Regions from separate parts of the Homo sapiens genome. Here all the other regions are linked to region 1. The links come from fine-mapping of genetic effects on gene expression. A gene starts in region 1. Each other region holds a variant in brackets. All regions are shown on one strand. Distances are between the middles of the regions.

Region 1 (6,909 bases):
AACTGCAGAGGGAGTCGGGTTAGAGGCCTGGCGGCGGGTTGCTCCCAGGAGGGAAGCCAGGTTATAAGCCGCCTAGGAAAGGCAGAGAGCCCCCCTCCGTGACAGAGAAGTGAGAGCCAGTGAGTCGCAGCAGGAGGCAATACAAGCAGTGCGTTCAACAATGAAGGACCCAGAGCCTCAAAGGAGAGGCATGAATATCTAATCCCTACACTTCCCCAGGCCTGGTGCAACTCTTAGCGGTAACTGACTTCCAGAGGGAAAAAAATAATACTTTTCGGTAGAGGGCAGTCTCTGAATTTGTAAAGTGCTTTATAATCCTTTTTCAGGTTTTCATACTGACCTACCTCACTGGGCAGTTTGAGGGTTAATTAAGTGTAACAGCTTCGGGGTGGATTGAGTGGGTGTCACTTAACACTCTGTGTGCCAGTCTCCTCTGCTGTAATCCTGACCCCTCCTTCCATAGTGGCTGTTCAGAGGAAGAAAAAAGGGACCATGAATTATTTTGCAGCTGTAAGAATTATAACACTATCATTAACAATAAAGATTATAGAAATTATAAGTCTCCTCAGAAAGTGCTTATCCGATCTCACAGGTAAACTGATGCTTTATATGTAATAAGACATCAAAGAATCCTCCTTTTCCTTTTTTTAAATTTTTATTTGTAGAGACAAAGTCTTGCTACGTTGCCCAGGCTAGCCTTGAACTCCTGGCCTCCAGTGATCCTCCTGCCTTGAATTCCCAAAGTGCTGAAACTACACATACGAACCATCATTCCTGGCCTTTTATTTTTCTAAAAGCAGTTATCGCCAGGCATGGTGGCTCACACCTGTAATCCCAGCATTTTGGGAGGCTTAGGTGGAAGGATCACTTGAGCCCAGGAGTTCAAGACCAGCCTAGGTAACATAGTGAGACCCCCGTCTTTAAAAAAAATTTAAAAATTAGTCAGGTGTGATGATGTGTACTTGTAGTCCCAGCTACTTGGGAGGCTGAGGCAGGAGGCTCGCTTGATTCCAGGAGTTGAACGCTGCAGTGAGCTATGATTGCATCTCTGCACTCCAGCCTGGGTAAGACGAAGACCCTATCTCTAAAAAAATTTTAGAAGTGGTTATCTCTTAAGTATTTTTATGTCCCTGCATGCCCAAATACGACTAAACTCAAGGAGAGAGACCAAAGAACTGATGGTAATATTGGACTTGGGAGTCTAAAGACTTGGAGTGGAATCTTGGCTCTATTACATCCAGGCTGGCTGAGTTTAATCATGTCACAGGTCCTCTAGGCGTCAGTTTCCTCACTGTAAAGTAACAAGAGTTAGATTGAGGACTTCAAAGGTCCCTTACGTCTCTAACGCTCACATATCCACGAAACCCACACCCAGGGAAGCAGTGAACCCCAGAAAGTGGGAGGTTAAGGTTAGGTTGGCATTTTGCTTCTGTCTGTGAGGTGGTGCTATGTATACCTAGGGTGGGGGGAACAGTTTTAGATTGGAGTGGGGAAGCAGGCTATGGAACCATATACCTCAGTCTGGCCATCACCAGAGGCTTCATTATCTGAAGAGTACTTCATTATTTGTTGAGTATTTCCAAAACTGAAATTCCAAGTATAAACATGAAAAGATTCTAGAAGCAACTGTACATGATTTGGAGATTATCTACCCGAAGGCTCTAGTTCCAAAACATCACAGAATAAAAAAAAAAATATAGATTCCTATCTCAATTGCATGACGCAACAGCTCTGCGATTCTCTGCATGAAACCTCAATCTTATCTAGATAACGGGCCAATAACAGGTCCTACGTCATGGGATCCTTGTGAGGGTTAAACGAAATTAATACATATCAGTGTGTGTGCTTTGCAAAACAGCAGGAGATATGCAAATTTCCTGTGTTCCTCTCGAGAAAATGAGGAAGACACGGAGACTAGGAATGTCTTTCAGGAATGGATGTTTATACTTAATTGGTCTGCAAAATTTCTCTCCCCTAGAGAAAAACAAACACTTCTCTCCAAAGGCAGAAGACACCCTGGTACCCCCATGAGCTGGGAATGGCAGTCAAGATTAAGATACAGATGAAAAAGCAGAAGAAATTCCAAATCTCAAGAGGGCAGGACGTTTATAGGGCTTATAGGGGTTTGTGGATAAAGTCCAATTGTCGTGATGTAGGTGAGAGAAAAACGTTTTTCAGTGGGGCTTAGGCCTAAAGCAGACGTAGGTGTGTATGTGAAATGGGAGGGGGAGACGAAAAATCTTTACCCTTGGAGAGCGAGCATGGATTTGCTAGCGAATGGATTTGGGGCCTTAACCAGTCTGGTGGCGACAGGGAAGGGAACAAATTCGGGTAGGGAAGGGATTACAGTGATGACGAAGATGGGGTCTGCAGACAAAGGTGTGGAACACGGAGAGCAAGAGACGGTGCTGGAGGTCGGTCCTCCGGGGGGCGGGCATGGTGATGAGGACCGAGACAGGGGGAGACTGGCGGTGAGGCCTGAAGGGGCGAGTCCCGGAGGCTAGAGCCCAGGAACCGGCAAAGTCGGAGGACAAGGACTCGCCCCGCGATCCCGGCCCGCCCCTGCTCACCTTGCCAGTTGCGAAGGGCCTCGGACTTCAGCGTGAGGCCCGAGGGCGCCAGGGGCTGCTGCAGCAGGAACAGGCGAGGCCCGGAAACCAGCAGCGAGAGCAGCGCAGTGAAGAAGGTGGCGGATGGCACCTCGGGACACAAGCACCAGCTGCGACACCCGGGCCCCGAGGCCGCCATGGCCGCCGTCGTTCCCGCGCCCCGCCTCGACGCCGGCTGCCGGTCCTCTGCTCCTTCCGCCTCCTCGCGGCAGTTTCCCTTGGCAACAGCAGAGGAGCCGGCCGGAGGCCACGCCTCCCAGAGGCCCCGCCCCATGCCAAGTTGTCCAATCCGGTAGCGCCGATCAGCCCCCCCCCCCCCCCCCCCCGTGCGTGGGAGGCCGGGACGGGGGGAGGGGGGTCGGGGCCACTTCCGGGTAGGAATGTTCCAGCACCGTGTTTGATTCCATCCTACTCGGGCTGGTACTGAAACTGCTCCTATAAACTTTAGGAAATTAATCAGGGAAGAAGGGAGGGGGAAAAACGAAAATAAACGAAGCTTGCAGCACACTCTGCGTTCATCACTAGGTCACCTTGCTCTCCGACCTGCTTGCTCATAGCTCTGTGTATCAGCTATGATAGGTGCCCATCGTCTGTCCTAGAATCACGTAGACCCTGTCACAAGATTACAATTCCCCTTAACTCCATAGATAACAACTTGAACATTATGAAACGTTTTCCCTTGGAGATATTCTTTCAGGTCCCGCATACCAGCATAATTACTGACACCAGTTGTTCTGAAGGAGCCCACAGAAGCAAGACTCAATGGGGACTGCAGTTTCCATATCCTGAGGATTTCAACCCCCTTACCCTGACCAGTCGATGACCCCAATTTTCCAGCCCCTCACCCTTCACAATGCCCTTTAAAATCCCAGCCCGGAACTCCTTGGGGAAGATGGATTTGTTGGTCTCCCTGCGTCTCCTCCTAGGCACCCTGCCATCTTTAAACCCTTTTTCTGCTGATAACCCTGCTTCCTCAGTGTAACTGGTCTGTTATTGCACAGCGGGCCTAGGCACCTGTTGGTCCTGTAATAATACCTCATGATTATTATGCCTTACAGCTCACAGAACTCTTTCATATCACGATCTTCCCATCTGTATTCATCCCTATTACACCAAAGAGGAAACAGGACTAGGGAGGGCCCTGGGTAATTCAGTTACATGGCAAAGACAGAATTAGAACTCAGTTCCTCCTGCTATGGCCCGGAATTGGCCTCCAGTACAGCCAGGGGCAGCTTTATCTTCATATTGAAGAAAAGGGGCAGGAGGCTGGGCACGGTGGCTCACGCCTGCAATCCCAGCACTTTGGGAGGCCGAGGCGGGCGGATCACGAGGTCAAGAATTAGAGACCAGCCTGGCCAACATGGTGAAACCCCGTCTCTAATAAAACTACAAAAATTAACCCGGCATGGTGGCGCGTGCCTGTAATCCCAGCTACTCCGGAGGCTGAGGCAGGAGAATCGCTTGAACCCAGGAGGCGGAGGTTGCAGCAAGCCGAGATCGCACCACTGCGCTCCAGCCTGGGTGACAGAGCAAGACTGTATCTCGGAAAAAAAAAAAAGGAAAAGGGACAGGAAACGGGAGAGGGATTCAATGGAAGGGACTCAAAAGTTAGGGATGTAATAGAACACTCATAACCGAGATCTATTTCAGCACTTTACAGTTTGAAAAGTGCTTTTGCTGGAGAACAGCTGTTTAAGGTAGACCTTCCTTTTTTTTTGACAAGAGTCTCACTCTGTCACCCAGGCTGGAGTGCAGTGGCGTGATCTCTGCTCACTGCCACCTCTGCCACCCAGATGCAAGTGATTCTTGTGCCTCAGCCTCCCGAGTCCCAAGTAGCTGGGACTACAGGTGTGCATCACCACGCCCAGCTAATTTTTGCATTTTTAGTAGATATGGGATTTCACCACATTGGCCAGGCTGGTCTCGAACTCCTGACCTCAGGTGATAAGCCTGCCTTGACCTCTCAAAGTCCTGGAATTACAGACATGAGCCACTGTGCCCAGCAGTACCTTCAAGGGTACTACCTTTTTCGCTTTCTCCAGTGACCCTGCCCAGTACTCCCTCCCCTCACATGGTAGAAGTATTTGGCTCCTTCCCCACACACCCACCCTAGTGTTATCAGCTCCTTGCCCTTGGCTGCAGGCTTTGGTTTGACTCAGCTGTAACTGCTGCCCCCCATAGCTTAGAAGCTCCTGCTGGCTCTGAAGGAAGGAGGCTAAATTTTGGGGCTTGTGTGTCCTGCTTCAGTAGCACAATCATAGCTCACTGCAGCCTTGACCTCCCGGGCTCATGGTATCCTCCTGCCTCAGCCTCCCAAGTAGCTGGAACCACAGGTGCGTGCTACCGCACCTAGCTAGCTGCTTCTTTTTTGTAGAGATGGGATCTTGCTCTGTTGCCCAGGCTGGTCTTGAACTCCTGGGCTTAGGCAATCGTCCCGCCTTGGCCTCCCAAAGTGCTGGGATGACAGGTGTGAGCCACCATGCCTAGCCTGTTGTGTGCTTTTTATGTAGTTACTCATTACATTTTCACAACCCTTGTGAGGCTGGTTCTGTAATTACGCCCGTTTTACAGATGAAGCAATGGAGATACAGAGAAGTTAAGTAACTTAAAATTAGGCAACAAGTCTTCCAGGAATTTTTTTTTTTTTTTTTTGAGACGAAGTCTTGCTCTGTCACCCAGGCTGGAGTGCAGTGCTGTAATGTCTGTTCACTGTAACCTCCTCCTCCCTGGTTCAAGCAGTTCGCTGCCTCAGCCTCCTGAGGCACTTCCCATATTATACTATCATTGCATATTTGTGCCCGTAATTGTGAGCTTACCAAGGGCAGAAGCCATGTCTGATTTATACCTGTGTCTGTATCCACAGCCCTGGCACCTAGCACACAGTGGGGCCACAGAAAATGTTCAATGCAAAGTTATTAGCCCTGATGCCTTTGGGATGTGACCTACTTCCCTTCCTTGTCTCTTGTCCAGAAGCCGAGGGTTCTCACGTAATTGAGACCCCTGGGGACTGTTATAACAACAGCCACCATCCCGAATGCATTTCACACTGAATTTCTGGCAAGAATTTCAAGATATTTTTTGAAGAGGAGACCTGAGGTACACCAGTCTAGGATGGCATGGCCAGTCAGCCCACCTAGCTCTCTGTAGAAAGAGTTTTCTGCATTTGCTGTGCAGAGGGTTTAGGCTCGGAGAGGGCAGTTGCAGGAGATATTCACGTTTCCCTTAAGGGAAACCTAGGATTGCAGGTGTGAGACACTGCACTTTTTTTTTTTTTTTTTGAGACTGAGTTTCGCTTTTGTTCCCCAGGTTGGAGTGCAATGGTGTGATCTTGGCTCACCGCAACCTCCGCCTCCCCGGTTCAAGCGATTCTCCTGACTCAGCGTCCCGAGTAGCTAGGATTACAGGCATGCGCTAGCATGCCCGGTTAATTTTGCATTTTTAGCAGAAACGGGGTTTCACCATGATGGTCAGGCTGGTCTCGAACTCCCGATCTCAGGTGATCCGCCTGAGATCTCAGCCTCCCAAAATGCTGGGATTACAGGCTTGAGCCACCACGCCCAGCCCACTGGGCCTTTTTGTTGTTGTTGTTTGTACAGACAGAGGTCTCACTATGTTGCCCAGGCTGGTCTCAAACTCTTGGGCTCAAGTGATCCTCGTGCCTGGGCCTCCCAAAGTGTTGGGATTCCAGGCATGAGCCAAGCCAAAAACCAGGAGATAAATACCATGTTATACTGGCCATTTCCTTTAATGTTCCCTTAAAGGAGACATTAATGGCTCCTACATTAGCATTTGAGAAGCAGCCAGTGTGGAGCTGGTGGAGCTCAGGCTGGAAGTCAGGAGGAAGCAGGACCTCACCCTGGCTCTTTCACTCGCTGCCTGAGTGATCTTGGGTAAGGGAGCCTCAGTTTCCTCATCTATAAAATGGGAACTAAGTCTTATCTTGCAGGGTTTTGATGAAGAAAACAGATAAGATTGACCGAGGGACGAATAGGATGTGAGGAGGTCACACTGTGAGTTAGTGGAAGAGCTAGGATTTGAACTTGGGTCATTAGATCTCTAAAGTTGTTCTATTTCTTTTTATTTTTTTGAGACAGAGTCTTACTCTGTCGCCCAGGCTGGAGTGCAGTGGCGTGATCTTGGCTCACTGCAACCTCCACCTCCCAGGTTCAAGTGATTCTCCTGCCTTAGCCTCCCCAGTAGCTGGGATTACAGGCACATGCCACCACGCCCTGCTAATTTTTGTATTTTTAGTAGAGACAGGGTTTCGCCATGTTGGCCAGGCTGCTCTCAAACTCCTGGC
Region 2 (6,909 bases), 78 kb before region 1:
GGATAAAACAATGTTCATGGAATAGAAAGCTCAATATTGTAGGATGTCAACTCTTCCCATATTAATATACAGATTCAATCCAATTCCAACAAAAATCCCACTGGGTTTTTTGTTTTAAAAATGTGTTTGGCCCCGTACAGTGGCTCACACCTGTAATCCCAGTATTTTGGGACGCCCAGGCGGATGGATCACTTGGGGTCAGGAGTTTAAGACCAGCCTGGCCAACGTGGTGAAACTCCATCTCTACTAAAAATACAAAAATTAGCCGGGCATCATGGTGGGTGCCTGTAATCCCAGCAACTTGGGAGGCTGAAGCAAGAGAATCGCTTGAGCCCCAGAGGCAGAGGTTGCAGTGAACTGATATCGCGCCATAGCACTCCAGCCTGGGTGACAGGGCGAGACCGTGTCTCTAAAACAAAATAAATAAATGCCAATTCTAGAAGCCACCAGAAATCATGGTGAGAGTTCCTGATATAGCCCTGGGCCACATACCTTCCTCACACTAAGCCCTATTACTCCCTACTGCTCTGTGGCTATAACAGAAATCACCTGTGCTCACTGAAATACCGGTAGCCAGGGACACTGATGTGGGATTTAGAATAGGAGATCTAGGCTTGAGGCCTGGTTGTATCAGCTAGGTGACCTTTCTGAGCCTCAGTTTTCTCCTATTTTTTATAGAGACAGGGCCTTGCTACGTTGCCCAGGCTGGTCTCCAACTCCTGGGCTTAAGCAATCCTCCTGCCTTGGCCTCCCAAAGAGCTGGGATCACAAGTGTGAACCACTACACCCAACTTCCTGCTCTGTAAAATAACATCTACAGGCTGAATGTCCCTAATCTAAAATCTGAAATCTGAAACTTTTTGAGCGTCAACATGATCCTCAAAGGGAAGAATCATTGGAGCATTTCAGATTTTCAGATAAGAAATGCTCATCTGGTGAGTATAATGCAAACATTCCAAAGTCCAAGATCTGAAACACTTCTGGCAAGCACTTCAGATAAGGAATACTCTCCTTGTCGGTAAATTAACAAATTAACACCACTCTTTTTTGTTTATTGTAGAGATGGCGGGGGGGTGGGGGTCTCCCTATGTTGCTCAGGCTGGTCTTGAACTCCTGGCTCAAGCAATCTTTGTGCCTCAGCCTCCCTAAGCACTGGGATTACAGGCGTGAGCCACCATGCCAGGCCTATTAACACTATCTTAGGAGACTAACACTATCGTAGGAGGCCTATTAACACTAAATTAGGAGCAGCATGGCAAAGTAGAGAAAACATGGCTTGTGGAGCTTGCAGACTTCATTCAAAAGCCAACTCTGCTGCTATTTAGAAGTTAGGTGGCCTTGGGCAAACTCTGCAATCCCTGGCACCTCGGTTTCTTCATCCGCAAAATGGGCTGCTCATGTCTTCGTGGAAGGGCTCTTGTAAGACTGGAGATGGTATTAATAAAAAGGATAAAAATAATAACACACTCCAGGCATGGTGGCTCACGCCTGTAATCCCAGCACTTTGGGAGGCCGAGGCAGGCAGACTGCTTGAGCCCAGGAGTTTCAGACCAGCCTGGGCAACATTGTTAGATGTCCATTTGTACAAAAAATATAAAAATTAGCCAAGGGTGGTGGTGCACGCCTGTAGTCCCAGCTACTTGGGAGGCCAAAGTGGGAGGATCTCTTGAGCCTGGGAGGCGGAGGTTGCAGTGAGCCGAGATCGTGCCAGCGTATTCCAGCCTGAACGACAGAGTGAGACCCTGCCTCAAAATAAATAAATAAATAGTAACAATCCATAACACCTGAGAGCCTACTATGCACCAGGAACTGAGCAAAGAGCTCTATGATGGATTAACTCAGTTTTCACAGCCTTATGAGGTAAGTACTACTACTACCTCCAGCTTACAGTTGGGGACACAGACTTGGAAAGATCAAGTCACCTGGCTGATGTCAGATGGCTAATGTGGGAGAGTCAGTACTCAACCTTGAGCACCCAACTTCAGGGTCCAGAATGTAGCCATGGTACTAGAAATATTTGTCTTGTACAGCGTACAGGTAAAAGCCCTGGCTGCAGCAGGCATCCAGTGTGATTTAATGAGGGAAGAGACAAGACTCTGGAAACTGCATATCTCCACACACATAAGGTTAGAAGATCATGATTAGGTGGAGGGAACAGAATTTCAGCATCCTGGCAAAGAGGAACAGTGAGAATCAACAAAAAAATACAAGTGCTTTGGGACCCTACAGCTCCCACAGTCTACAGGTTTTATGTCAACTTCCTCTTGTAAGGCCAGGGAGGTGACAGCGAGAACAGATGAGCTATGAGAGGAATGCTGCCTCCCTTGGTGGCAAGCTCCGCAGGCTCCCAGGGCCAACCCACGTCCTCACTCACGGCGGTGGGGCGGAACTTCCATTTTACAGATGAGGGAACAAGGGCCAGTTCAGGAGCTGGGTCCTGGACCCTGGTCTCTTTATCTTGAGTACTACTACGCTTTTTTATCAAAAGTACTATTCCACACCAGCAATGCCCCGTGTACCAGCCCTGGACAGGATGGGCTGGATTCCAGCTGATCTGCCCTTCCTATATCGGGCCCTCTGCTCTAAAGTCCTTTCAGCTTCAGGGTGTGGCTCTACCTTTAAGAACCTGCCCAACACCCCTCCTGCAGGACTTGGTCTGATCCCCACACCAATTCCTTCTCTCTTAGAGCTGGCGGAGCCTGTCTCTCCAGCCTGTGCCCTGGGCACATCCCATAACCTCTCTGAGAGCAGAAATGAGGCAACCCACGCTACCTAACGCACGGCGCTGTTGCAAGGAGGCCCTGATTAGACAATGTAGGTTAAAGCAGTTCACAAAGCATTTCTAAAAAGTACGCTGTGGCCGGGTGTGGTGGCTCACGCCTATAATCCCAGCACTATGGGAGGCAGAGGCAGGCAGCTCACCTGAGGTCGGGAGTTTGAGACCAGCCTGGCCAACATGGTGAAACCCCGTCTCTACTAAAAATACAAAAATTAGCCAGGCGTGGTAGCATGTGCCTGTAGTCCCAGGCACTCGGGAGACTGAGGCACGAGAATCGCCTGAACCCGGGAGGCGGAGGTTGCAGTGAGCCGAGATTGCACCACTGCACTCCAGCCTGAGTGACAAGAGCAAAAGTCTGTCTCAAAAAAAAAAAAACTATGTTGCAACACCCTCATTTTCCAGCTTAACATAAATGCTGGCTCTGTGGTCCTGATCGTGCCCGTCATAGTGCCTGGCACGAAATACGATCAACGCAAACACTACACAGCTCCTATCCCTCAGGGGCAGTGCTAGGTGAGTTTATAGACTCTTCCTCATTTAAGACAAAAGCCCCACAAGATTGGGAATACTGCCTCCATTTAGCAGGTGAGGAAACTGAGGCAGAATGAGGTTAAGGTCTCGCCCAGGGTTCACTCACCACTAGAGCGTAAGCTTGATGAAGACAGCATTCATCTATTTTCTTCACTGCTGCAGCCACACACCTTAGCATAGTGTCTGGGACACTGTAGGTAGGGCCTCAGGAAATGTTTGCTCAGTGAGTCAATGATGGAGATAAGATTGAACCCAGTTTTGTTTTGTTTTGTTTTGTTTTTGAGACGGACTCTGTCTCCCAGGCTGGAATGCAGTGGCGCATTCTTGGCTCACTGCAACCTCTGCCTCCTGGGTTCAAGCGATTCTTCTGCCTCAGCTTCCCTAGTAGCTGAAATTACAGGCATGCACCACCACGCCCAGCTAGTTTTTGTATTTTCGGTAGAGACGGGGTTTCGCCATGTTGGCCAGGCTGGTCTCGAACTCCTGACCTCAAGTGATTTCTCCCGCCTC[G/A]GCCTCCCAAAGTGGTGGAATTACAGACGTGAGCCGCTGTGCCTGGCCCTGAACCCAGTTTTTAAAAATGTAAAACTAATTCCCTGTCCATGGTATAAGAACTGTGTTGTGTGAATATCTGCTTTACGGTGTGAAGGCTGTAAGTGTTCTGGCGGGGAAGGCTGATACCCAGATTGGAATAGGGAATCGGGATTTGATGTGAGCGGCATGCTTCACCATGCCCAGCCTTGGAGAATGACTTTTCTGTGTGGCTTGTTCCTGCCAAGACAGCCACAGCCTTGGACTGGAACTGACATGACAGATGGCCCCCACTGGTGTCAGCACCAGCCCAGGGTGGCCCTGGGGTGCAAGCTAAGGCTGCAGCTGGGACTGGGTCCCCTGAAGACAGACAGAATGAAAGGGGTTCTGGTCTGAGAATGGCTCCCAATCCTGCCCCTGAGACCTGCCCCTTGCCAAATCCAGGGAGTCCCTGAAGGCAGCAGGCCCGTGCCCCTGGAGTTCCCTCGGCTCAGACCTGACCTGGCAGGTCCCCACTCAAACCTGGCTGCGGGCCCCTGGAGTCTGAGACTGGTGTTAAACACAGCCAAGCGTAACCGCAGGAAGTAATTCTGGCCGCAGGACCCTAAAATCTGGAGAATGACTTTTCCGTGTGGCTTATGGAAATCAATCTTGGAGAGACAGGGATGCAGTCACTTAGGCAGACCTTCGGTATCATTTTTTTCTGTCTACATACCATCTATACTATTATTTCCTTAACGTTTTTCTTTTAACTAATCCATCTTTTTCACTTATTCTTAAAAGGAAGCTTCATGAAAAGTTTAAAAGAGCAACAAAATAAGGCCTGTCCAAAGATTTTGTGCTCATTAGCACATAGCCTTCCAGGTGGCTACAGCCTTAAAAAGACTTTAAAATGCCAATTCTAGGCTGGGTACAGTGGCTCACGCCTGTAATCCCGACACTCTGGGAGACCAAGGTGTGCGGATTGCTTGAGTCCAGGTGTTCGAGACCAGCCCGGGACATGGCAAATCCCTGTCTCTATAAAAAAATACAAAAATTGACTGGGCGCAACGGCTCACACCTGTAATCCCAGCACTTTGGGAGGCCGAGGTGGGCGGATCACTTGAGGTCAGGAGTTTGAGACCAGCCTGGCCAACATGGTGAGACCCTGTCTCTACTAAAAATACAAAAAATAGCCAGGCGTGGTGGCGGGCACCTGTAATCCAAGCTACTCAGGAGGCTGAGGCAGAAGAATTGCTTGAGCCTGGGAGGCAGAGGTTGCAGTGAGCCGAGATCGCACCGCTGTACTCCAGACTGGTTGAAAGAACAAGATTCTGCTTCAAAAAAAAAAAAAAAAAAATTAGCTGGGCATAGTGGTGCACACCTTTAGTCCCAGCTACTCGGGAGGCTGAGGTGGGAAGACTGCCTGAGCCTGGGAGGTGGAGATTACAGTGAACCTTGATCGTGCCACCGCCATTGCACTCCAGCCTGGGCAATACAGTGAGACCATGTCTCCAAATAAATAAATAAATAAATAAATGGAAAAAAGGGTTCCAGCTCTAGCGCTGCTATTGCTGGCTAATGACCCTGGCAGGCCCGTTAACATTCTTGAGCCCCCGGTTCTTAATCTGTAAACTGGTGTCATTTTCGCAGTGCTTCCTGTGAAGGTCATATAAACAGCAGATAGAAAAGGGCCTTATAAACCCCACATAAGAGATGATTAAGGGAGAGCTCAAGCACAATCTAGCAAGAAGGCAAAACCCAAGAGTCACCCCAAAATGCTACAAGGAGCCTTGCTTCTTTCAGCCTGAGGCCCGCATGCAGGACACTGCTTGGAGTGGTGACAGAAGAGGGACAGAGAGAGGAGGCTGAGAGGCGGCACTTACAATGTCTGAATTTTGGTGAACTCGGGGACTTCTTCTTTTTTCTTTCTGAAGAGGAACCAGTAGGTTAGGAGACCCACGATGAGCGAAAACAGAATCATGTCCGTCATGCTGAAAAGAGATACTTCTTCGGCCACCGCCTCGGACACGGTGGAGCTGGTGTCCACGTGGGAGTCTCCCATGTTGATCATGAAACTGTTAGGAGACAGAAACAGCAGATGTCAGCAGAGGGTAGCAGGGTGCCCCTGAGGCTGGCTGGGGTGCCCACCTAAATGCTGGGCCTTGCCCCTGGGGCTGCAGGAAATGGTCACTGCACGGGGTAGGAGAAGGGGCTCACTCAGCCAGGTTCCTGCCAAGACAGCCACAGTCTTGGACTGGGGCTGACATAACAGACAGCCCCCAGTGGTGTCAGCACCAGCCCAGGGTGGTCCTGGGGTGCAAGCTAAGGCAGCAGCTGGGACTGGGTCCCTGGAAGACAGAGAAAATGACAGCCACTGACTCTCAGTGTGCTGGAACATCCTCTAATCCCACAAGGACACCGCACGGGGGGCAGGCGGGAGGAAGTGCACGCAAGAGTGGACCATTTCGCAGCAAACCCTTTCCCCAGCTGTGTGGCTGGCGGGGGTTGCCCTAAACCCTGCATGTTCCAAGTCTCCAGGCCTGGCCCTTGAGTGGCTCCTGATATTCACGAGCCTTGGACTATCCTGACTGGCAAGAGTGTCTCTGTATTCCTAAAACCTTGGGCTATGAAGGTAGTTCCTGTTAACAATGAGATTTATGGTGAATGCCTGCTTTCCTATGCCTGGGAGTCTTTTTTTTTTTTTTTTAAGAGACAAAGTCTGGTCCCTCCCCCTCCCCCTCCCCCTCCCTCTTTCCACGGTCTCCCTCTGATGCCCAGCCGAAGCTGGACTGTACTGCTGCCATCTCGGCTCACTGCAACCTCCCTGCCTGATTCTCCTGCCTCAGCCTGCCGAGTGCCTGCGATTGCAGGCGCGCGCCGCCACGCCTGACTGGTTCTCGTATTTTTTTGGTGGAAACGGGGTTTCGCTGTGTTGGCCGGGCTGGTCTCCAGCTCCTAACCGCGAGTGATCCTCCAGCCTCGGCCTCCCGAGGTGCCGGGATTGCAGACGGAGTCTCGTTCCCTCAGTGCTCAATGGTGCCCAGGCTGGAGTGCAGTGGCTTGATCTCGGCTCGCTACAACCACCTCCC
Region 3 (6,909 bases), 52 kb before region 1:
AAAGAAACTCTATGATTAGACAACACAGGATATCAATGTTAATTTCCTGCTATTGATCACTGTATTTTGCTTACCAAAAAAAAAAAAACTGTCCTTGCCTTGAAGAAAATACACACTGAAGTACTTAGGGGTAACCAAGTATCTTGGTCATATCTGCAACTCATTCTCAAATAGTTCAAGAAAAAATATATCTACACACACACACACACACATTGATAAAGCAAATATGGTAAAATATTAACAATGGGGAAATCTGGGTAAAGGGCGCTCAAGAATTGTTAGCACTGCTGTTGCAACTTTTTTGCAAATCTGAAACTATTTCAAAACAAAAAGTTAAAATTAAATACAGTTCAAGAGACCTACTGAGGCTGGGTGCGGTGGCTCACGCCTGTAATCCCAACACTTTGGGAGGCCCAGGCAGGTGGATCACCTGAGGTCAGGAGTTAGAAACCAGCCTGGGCAACATGGTGAAACCCCCATCTCTACTAAAAATACAAAAAATTAGCCAGGCGTGGTGGCAGGTGCCTGTAATCCTGGCTGCTCCAGAGGCTGAGGCAGGAGAATCGCTTGAACCTGGGAGGCAGAGGTTGCAGTGAGCCGAGATCGCGCCATTGCACTCCAGCCTGGGCAACAAGAGTGAAACTCCGCTCAAAAAAAAAAAAAAAAAAAAAAAAAAAAAACAAAGACCTATTGTATAACATGGTGACTATAGTTAGTAGCAATGTGTTGTACTCTTGAAGACTGCTAAGAGTAGATTTTAAGTGTTCTCACCACAAAAAAAGGTGTGAGGTAATGCATATGTTAATTAACTCAATTTAGCCATTCTACCAGACTTCAAAACAATATGCCATACACTATAAATATATACAACTTTGTCAATTAAAAAATTTAAAAGCATGTTTAGTGAAGAAAATGTGCTATATTTTAAAACATAAAATTAAGGAAAACATAATCCAAACTCTTATTTGGTTTCATTCTACCAGTTTTTTACATGCATATTACAGGACATACTTTTCCTTTTTTTTTTTTTTTCAGATGGAGTCTCGCTCTGTTGTTGCCCAGGCTGGAATGCAGTGGTGCCATCTCGCTCAGCTCACTGCAACCTCCACCTCCCGAGTTCAAGGGATTTTCCTGCCTCGGCCTCTGGAGTAGCTGGGATTACAGGTGCCTGCCACCATGCTCGGCTAATCTTTGTATTTGTAGTAGAGATGGGGTTTCACTATGTTGGCCAGGCTGGTCTCAAACTCCTGACCTCGTGATCCACCCACCTCGGCCTCCCAAAGTGCTGGGATTACAGGTGTGAGCCACCGTGCCCGCCCATGTTTTTAACATGATCGGTCTTATACTACATATAATTTTGTTCTACTTTTCATATATTAAATTGTGAACATTTTCTTGTTATAAATTCTCAAATGTCATTATATTTTCACTATTACAATGTCAAGTTACAGTGCATTTTCTAGTACAGAAAAAAAAATTAAAACTGTTTTTAAAAAAGTCATGAAAAACAGGATTGATATATTTTCAACATAAGTCTTTGTAAGCCACTGATAAGTTCCTTAAAATAGAAATTCTGGCCAGGCGCAGTGGTACATGCCTGTAGTCCCAGCACTTTGGGAGGCCGAGGCAGGCAGATTGCTTAAGCTCAGGAGTTCAAGACTAGCCTGGGCAACACAACAAATCCCTGTTTCTATAAAACAATACAACAATTAGCTGGGCGTGTTGGTGCACACCTGCAGTTCTAGCTACTCGGGGGGCTGAGGCATGAGAATCACTTGAACCTGGGAGGCGGAGGTTGCAGTGAGCCAAGACTGCACCACTGCACTCCAGCCTGGGCAGACAGAGACAGAATTTGTCTCAAAAAAAAAAAAAAAGAATTTCTGAATTTGTCTTAGAAATATTTCTGAATCAAAGGGAACAAATATTTTCAAGGTCCCTGACTTACTGTCAAATTATTTTTCAAAAAGCAATTTATTTTCAAAATTTCTCTGCAGCTCTTCCTCTTCAAGGCACGCTGCTAAGCTGAAGAGACGGGAGCAATTCCACAAAGCACTGTGTGCACAGAGGCCTAGCAGCAGGTGGAAGGATGAAAGCTGAAACACAGGAATTAATAAGCACTTAAGGGAGGCCATGACACCTGTGCCCCAGCAGGGAGGGCAAACTGAATCGAGTAGTGGCCTCAGCTTTTCTGGTGGAAGACACATCTTTATTTCCTTGCCAAAATAAACAGAACAGATGGTGGGAGCCGGTTCATGTGTGGGTGAGTCTGGTAGTGGTTAAGGAGGGCTTCCTGATGGAAAGGACTCAAAAGGGAAGGAGACAGAGTGGGGAAGAGCACACACCAAGGCCAGAAGGGAAAATAGAGTCACGGCTTTAAAAGGAAAAACAGGCCAGGTGCGGAGGCTCACACCTGTAATCCCAGCACTTTGGGAGACCAAGGCGGGAGGATCACTTGAGGACAGGAGTTCGAGACCAACCTGTCCAACGTGGTGAAACCCCGTCTCTACTAAAAATACAAAAAAATTAGTCGGGTGTGATGACAGGCGCCTGTAATCCCAGCTACTCGGGAGGCTAAGGCAGGAGAATCGCTTGAACCTGGGAGGTGGAGGTTGCAGTGAGCCAAGACTGCACCACTGCATTATAGCCTGCGTGAGAGAGGGAGACTGTGTCTCAAATAAATAAATAAATAAATAAATAAATAAATAAATAAATAAATAAAATCACACAATAAGTGGCCCTTTGTAACTGGTTTCTTTCACTTAGAATAATGTCTTCAAGGTCCATCCACGTTGTGGCATGCATAAAAGCCCTTCATTCCTCTTCATGCCTGAGTAACATTTCATCGTATGGATATACCACATTTTGTTTATCCATTCAATGGGTGATGGATACTTGGATTGTTTCCTTTTGGGGGCTGTTATAAATATTGTTGCTGGACAGGCACAGTGGCTCATGCCTGTAATCCCAGCACATTGAGAGGCTGAGGCGGGAGGATGGATTGAGGCCAGGAGTTTGAGACCAGCCTGGGTAACATAGTGAAACGCCATCTCTACAGAAAATTAAAAAATTAGTGAGGTGTGGTGGTGCACACCTGTAGTCCCCGCTACTCAGGAGGCTGAGGTTAGAGGATCACTTGAGCCCAGGAATTGGGGGTTACAGTGAGATATGATCCCAACACTGCACTCCAGCCTGGGTGACAGAGCAAGACCCTGTCTTTAAAAAATAAATACATAAGGGCCGGGCAAGGTGGCTCATGCCTGTAATCCCAGCACTCTGGGAGGTCGAGGTGGGCGGATCACCTGAGGTCAGGAGTTGGAGACCAGCCTAACCAACATGGAGAAACCCTGTCTTTACTAAAAATACAAAATTAGACGGGCGTGGTGGCACATGC[T/C]TGTAATTCCAGCTACTTGGGAGGCTGAGGCAGGAGAATCACTTGAACCCGGGAGGTGGAGGCTGCAGTGAGCCAAGATCGTGCCACTGCACTCCAGCCTGGGCGACACAGCGAGACTCCATCAGTATAAACGTTTTCTATTTCCTTGTTTACATTTATTTATTTATTTTATTTTATTTATTTTTAGACAGGGTCTTGCTCTGTTGTCCAGGCTGGAGTGCAGTGGTGCAATCATAGGTCACCACAACCTCTACCTCCCAGGATCAAGTGATCCTCCCACCTCAGCCTCCCGAGGAGCTGGGACTACAGGTGCACACCACTACGCCTGGCTAGTTTCTGAATGTCTCTAAAACAAGGGTTAGTACCCCTTGGTTCTTAAGAAAAAGCACTCAGAATTGCAGAAGAGAGAAAGGCCTGCCTAGTCTACACAGCACTGTGTTTACTACAGGCTCACTAAGGAGGAGCCAAGCAATGCAACCAACGTTCACTCAACACCTACTACGTGCCAAGCACCCTGGCTAGGCACCTTCTACAATTTCTTTTGATTCATATGATAAACCTGTTTAGAGAAATATTATTTCACCCATTTTACAGACTCAGATTCAAAGCCCTAAGGACCAAGCAAGTTACTGAAATTCCCACAACTTACAGAGGGAGATTTAAAGACCTTGTGGGACCCTCTCTGTCACTTCTTGTTGCAACCCTAGACAAGGAAGGGGTGACCCAACTCCTGGCCCATAATGGTCTTGATGGTTCTCATGCTGGCTACTGTCACCCCACATTCAGCTAGTAGTGGGCTGTGCCATTCAGCAAAAACAGAGTTTCTACTAGTGCATAGAGGACCACGGAGTCACAGGGGGTGCTCTGGGCGACAGCTTCACCCACAGAACAGGTATTGGTCAGTGGCTTCCTTCGGTCCAACAGGTGGTTTCAAATCAGCTCTTCCACAAGCTGACAGGGAACAATGGTACTAATGAGACAGACAAGCCAGATGGCCCCTGGGCTGAGGCCTCAGAGGGCACCGTATTGGTCATTCCTTCCCCAGCGTTGCTTGCGTTTCACCTTGATGTTCGGTCATTGCTATGCATTCAAGGCAATCACATGTGTATTGAGGCCGGGCGCGGTGGCTCACACCTGTTATCCCAGCACTTTGGGAGGCCAAAGTGGGAAGATCACCTGAGGTCAGGAGTTCAAGACCAGCCTGGCCAACATGGTGAAACTAAAAATACAAAAAGTAGCTGGGCATGGTGGTGCATGCTCTGTAATCCCAGCTACTCAGGAGGCTGAGGCAGGAAAATCACTTGAACCCAGGAGGCGGAGGTTGCGCTGAGCTGAGATCGCACCACTGCACTCCAGCCTGGGCGATAGAGCCAGACTCGGTCTCAAAAAAACAAAAAAAGTGTACTGAGCACCAACTCTAGGTCATCTCTGTGACCTGTGCTTGGATATTCACAGCATGTGTTTAAATTCTAGAATGTGGGCAGTAGGGTTACTAAAAACCCACAACATGAACAAGTCAGTAATAATTAGATCCCATCGCTATGGTGACTAAGGACGGTCATGCGGTGTCTATAAAAGCATCATAATTATTATACCATTTACAAGATTGCCCATACAGAGCTTTCTATTGCCCCATGTTGTCTTACAAGGAAGACAAAATCCTTTGGTGCTGGCCTGACATTGTACTATGCCTGCTGCTCGAGACAGGTACACTAGGTTACCCAAGATGCTCCTTTAGACTGAGGGCTTAATGCTCCATTTCTCAGACACCACCAAGAGAGCTGCGTACTTGCCGGCAGCTAGCTGTGGAGATGTGCTTGAGTTGGGAGAGCCACAGCTCTGCTGCACCCACTGGGGCTTCCTGTTAGAAAAGAGACCCACCACATCACACAGTACACCTGCATGAGAGGCTAGAGGGAAAGTCCTCCAGGCCACAGCACTAGAAAAAAGTCCTCCTGGGCAGTGACCCACATCACATGGCTTCAAGCTGAACTCTAAGCAACGTCTAGTGTGGGCAGGGTGACTCCGCTAGGCCCTTGGCCTCCATAAGGTGACTCAGTGGTTCAAGCAGCTTTTTCTCTTGTCATTCCACCATCTCAATGTTCAACTTCCGGGCCGTCCTGATGGGAAGAAGATTGCTGGAGGGCCTGGCCCTGGCTCTTAAATGCTTCCATCCAGAAGTGACATACGTGACTTCCTCTCACAGGCCATTACCCGAAGTTAACTTCAAGAGGGCTTAGAAATGTGTGGGAGCCCAGAAACACGCAGTGAACATACGTCTGCTGCAGGTGTCCACGACTAGCTCAAGATGACAGGGAACTGGAGGCACAACTGGTGGGAGTCTAGTTGCTCAAGAACTCATGACCTATAAACCTGATTTTTAAAAACTGAGATAGAAGCCGGGTGTGGTGGCTCACACCTGTAATCCCAGTACTTTGAGAGGCCGAGGCGGGTGGATCACAAGGTCAGGAGTTCGAGACCAGCCTGGCCAACATAGTGAAACCCTATCTCTACTAAAAATACAAAAATTAGCTGGTATGGCAGTGTGTGCCTGTAATCCCAGCTACTTGGGAGGCTGAGGCAGGAGAATCACTTGAACCCAGGAGGTGGAGGTTGTGGTAAGTGAAGATTGTTCCACTGTACTCCAGCCTGGGCAACACAGCAAGACTCCGTCTCAAAAAAAAAAAAAAAAAAAAAGAAACCTGAGATAGAGACTGGGAGCAGTGGCTCATGCCTCAGGCCGAGGAGGGCAAGATCACTTGAGGTCAGGAGTTCGAGACCAGTCTAGCCAACATGGTGAAACCCCGTCTCTACTAAAAATACAAAAATTAGCTGGGTGTGGTGGTGGGCACCTGTAATCCCAGCTACTCAGGAGGCTGAGGCAAGAGAATCACTGGAACCCGGGAGGCAGAGGTTGCAGTGGGCTGAGATTGGGCCACTGCACTCCAGCCTGGACCACAGAGCGAGAGTCAGTCTCAAAAAAAAAAAAAAAAAATTGAGACAGAATTCACACACCATAAAATTCATCATTTTAAAGTATAAAATTCAGTGGTTTTCACTATATTCACCCATTGTGCAAGCATCACCACTACCAGATTCCAGAGCATCTTCATACCCTCAAAAGGAAATCCCACACTCATCAGCAGTCACTCCCCACTCCTGACCTGGTTTTTGTTTTTTGGGGTTTTTTTTGTTGTTGTTTTTTTTTTGAGACAGGGTCTCACTCTGTCAGCCAGGCTGCTGTACAGTGGCGTGATGACAGCCCAGCCTCCTGCGTTGCTGGGACTACAGGCACCCACCACCAAGCCCCATTAATTTTTTGTTAAGATACGGGGTTTCGCCATGTTGCCCAGGTTGGTCTCAAACTCCTGGGCTCAAGCCATTAGCCCACCTCAATCTCCCAAAGTGCTGGGATTACAGGTGTGAGCCACCAAGCCCGGCCCTGATTTGTTTTTAACTAATGAACAGTGTTTTAACACTGCTCTGACATACAGGAGCTGTAATTATCACAAAGGTTA

Evidence for each region. PIP is the estimated chance that this variant, and not a neighbour inherited with it, causes the effect. A credible set is the group of variants that fine-mapping cannot tell apart.
Region 2: its variant is the best candidate, but not a certain one, in a credible set for the expression of RHBDD2 in whole blood (TOPMed, PIP 0.63).
Region 3: its variant is the best candidate, but not a certain one, in a credible set for the expression of RHBDD2 in tibial artery (GTEx, PIP 0.63).

What each region holds. Positions count from the first base shown.
Region 1 is chr7:75,874,922-75,881,830 of GRCh38, reverse strand. RHBDD2 (rhomboid domain containing 2) reads right to left here and starts at 2,797. Exons shown (of 4, transcript NM_001040456.3): 1 at 2,571-2,797; 2 at 1-2. The coding sequence starts at 2,748. RefSeq lists silencers at 2,417-2,596, 2,697-2,946 and an enhancer at 2,493-3,101.
Region 2 is chr7:75,952,975-75,959,883 of GRCh38, reverse strand. POR (cytochrome p450 oxidoreductase) reads right to left here. Exons shown (of 16, transcript NM_001395413.1): 2 at 5,704-5,895. The coding sequence starts at 5,882. Among named protein-coding and RNA genes, the nearest start is that of SNORA14A, 13 kb to the right of the region's middle. RefSeq lists a silencer at 759-1,053. The variant G/A (reference allele first, on the strand shown) is at 3,821.
Region 3 is chr7:75,927,148-75,934,056 of GRCh38, reverse strand. The region is part of intron 1 of POR (cytochrome p450 oxidoreductase); the gene reads right to left. Among named protein-coding and RNA genes, the nearest start is that of SNORA14A, 13 kb to the left of the region's middle. RefSeq lists an enhancer at 5,461-5,520. The variant T/C (reference allele first, on the strand shown) is at 3,392.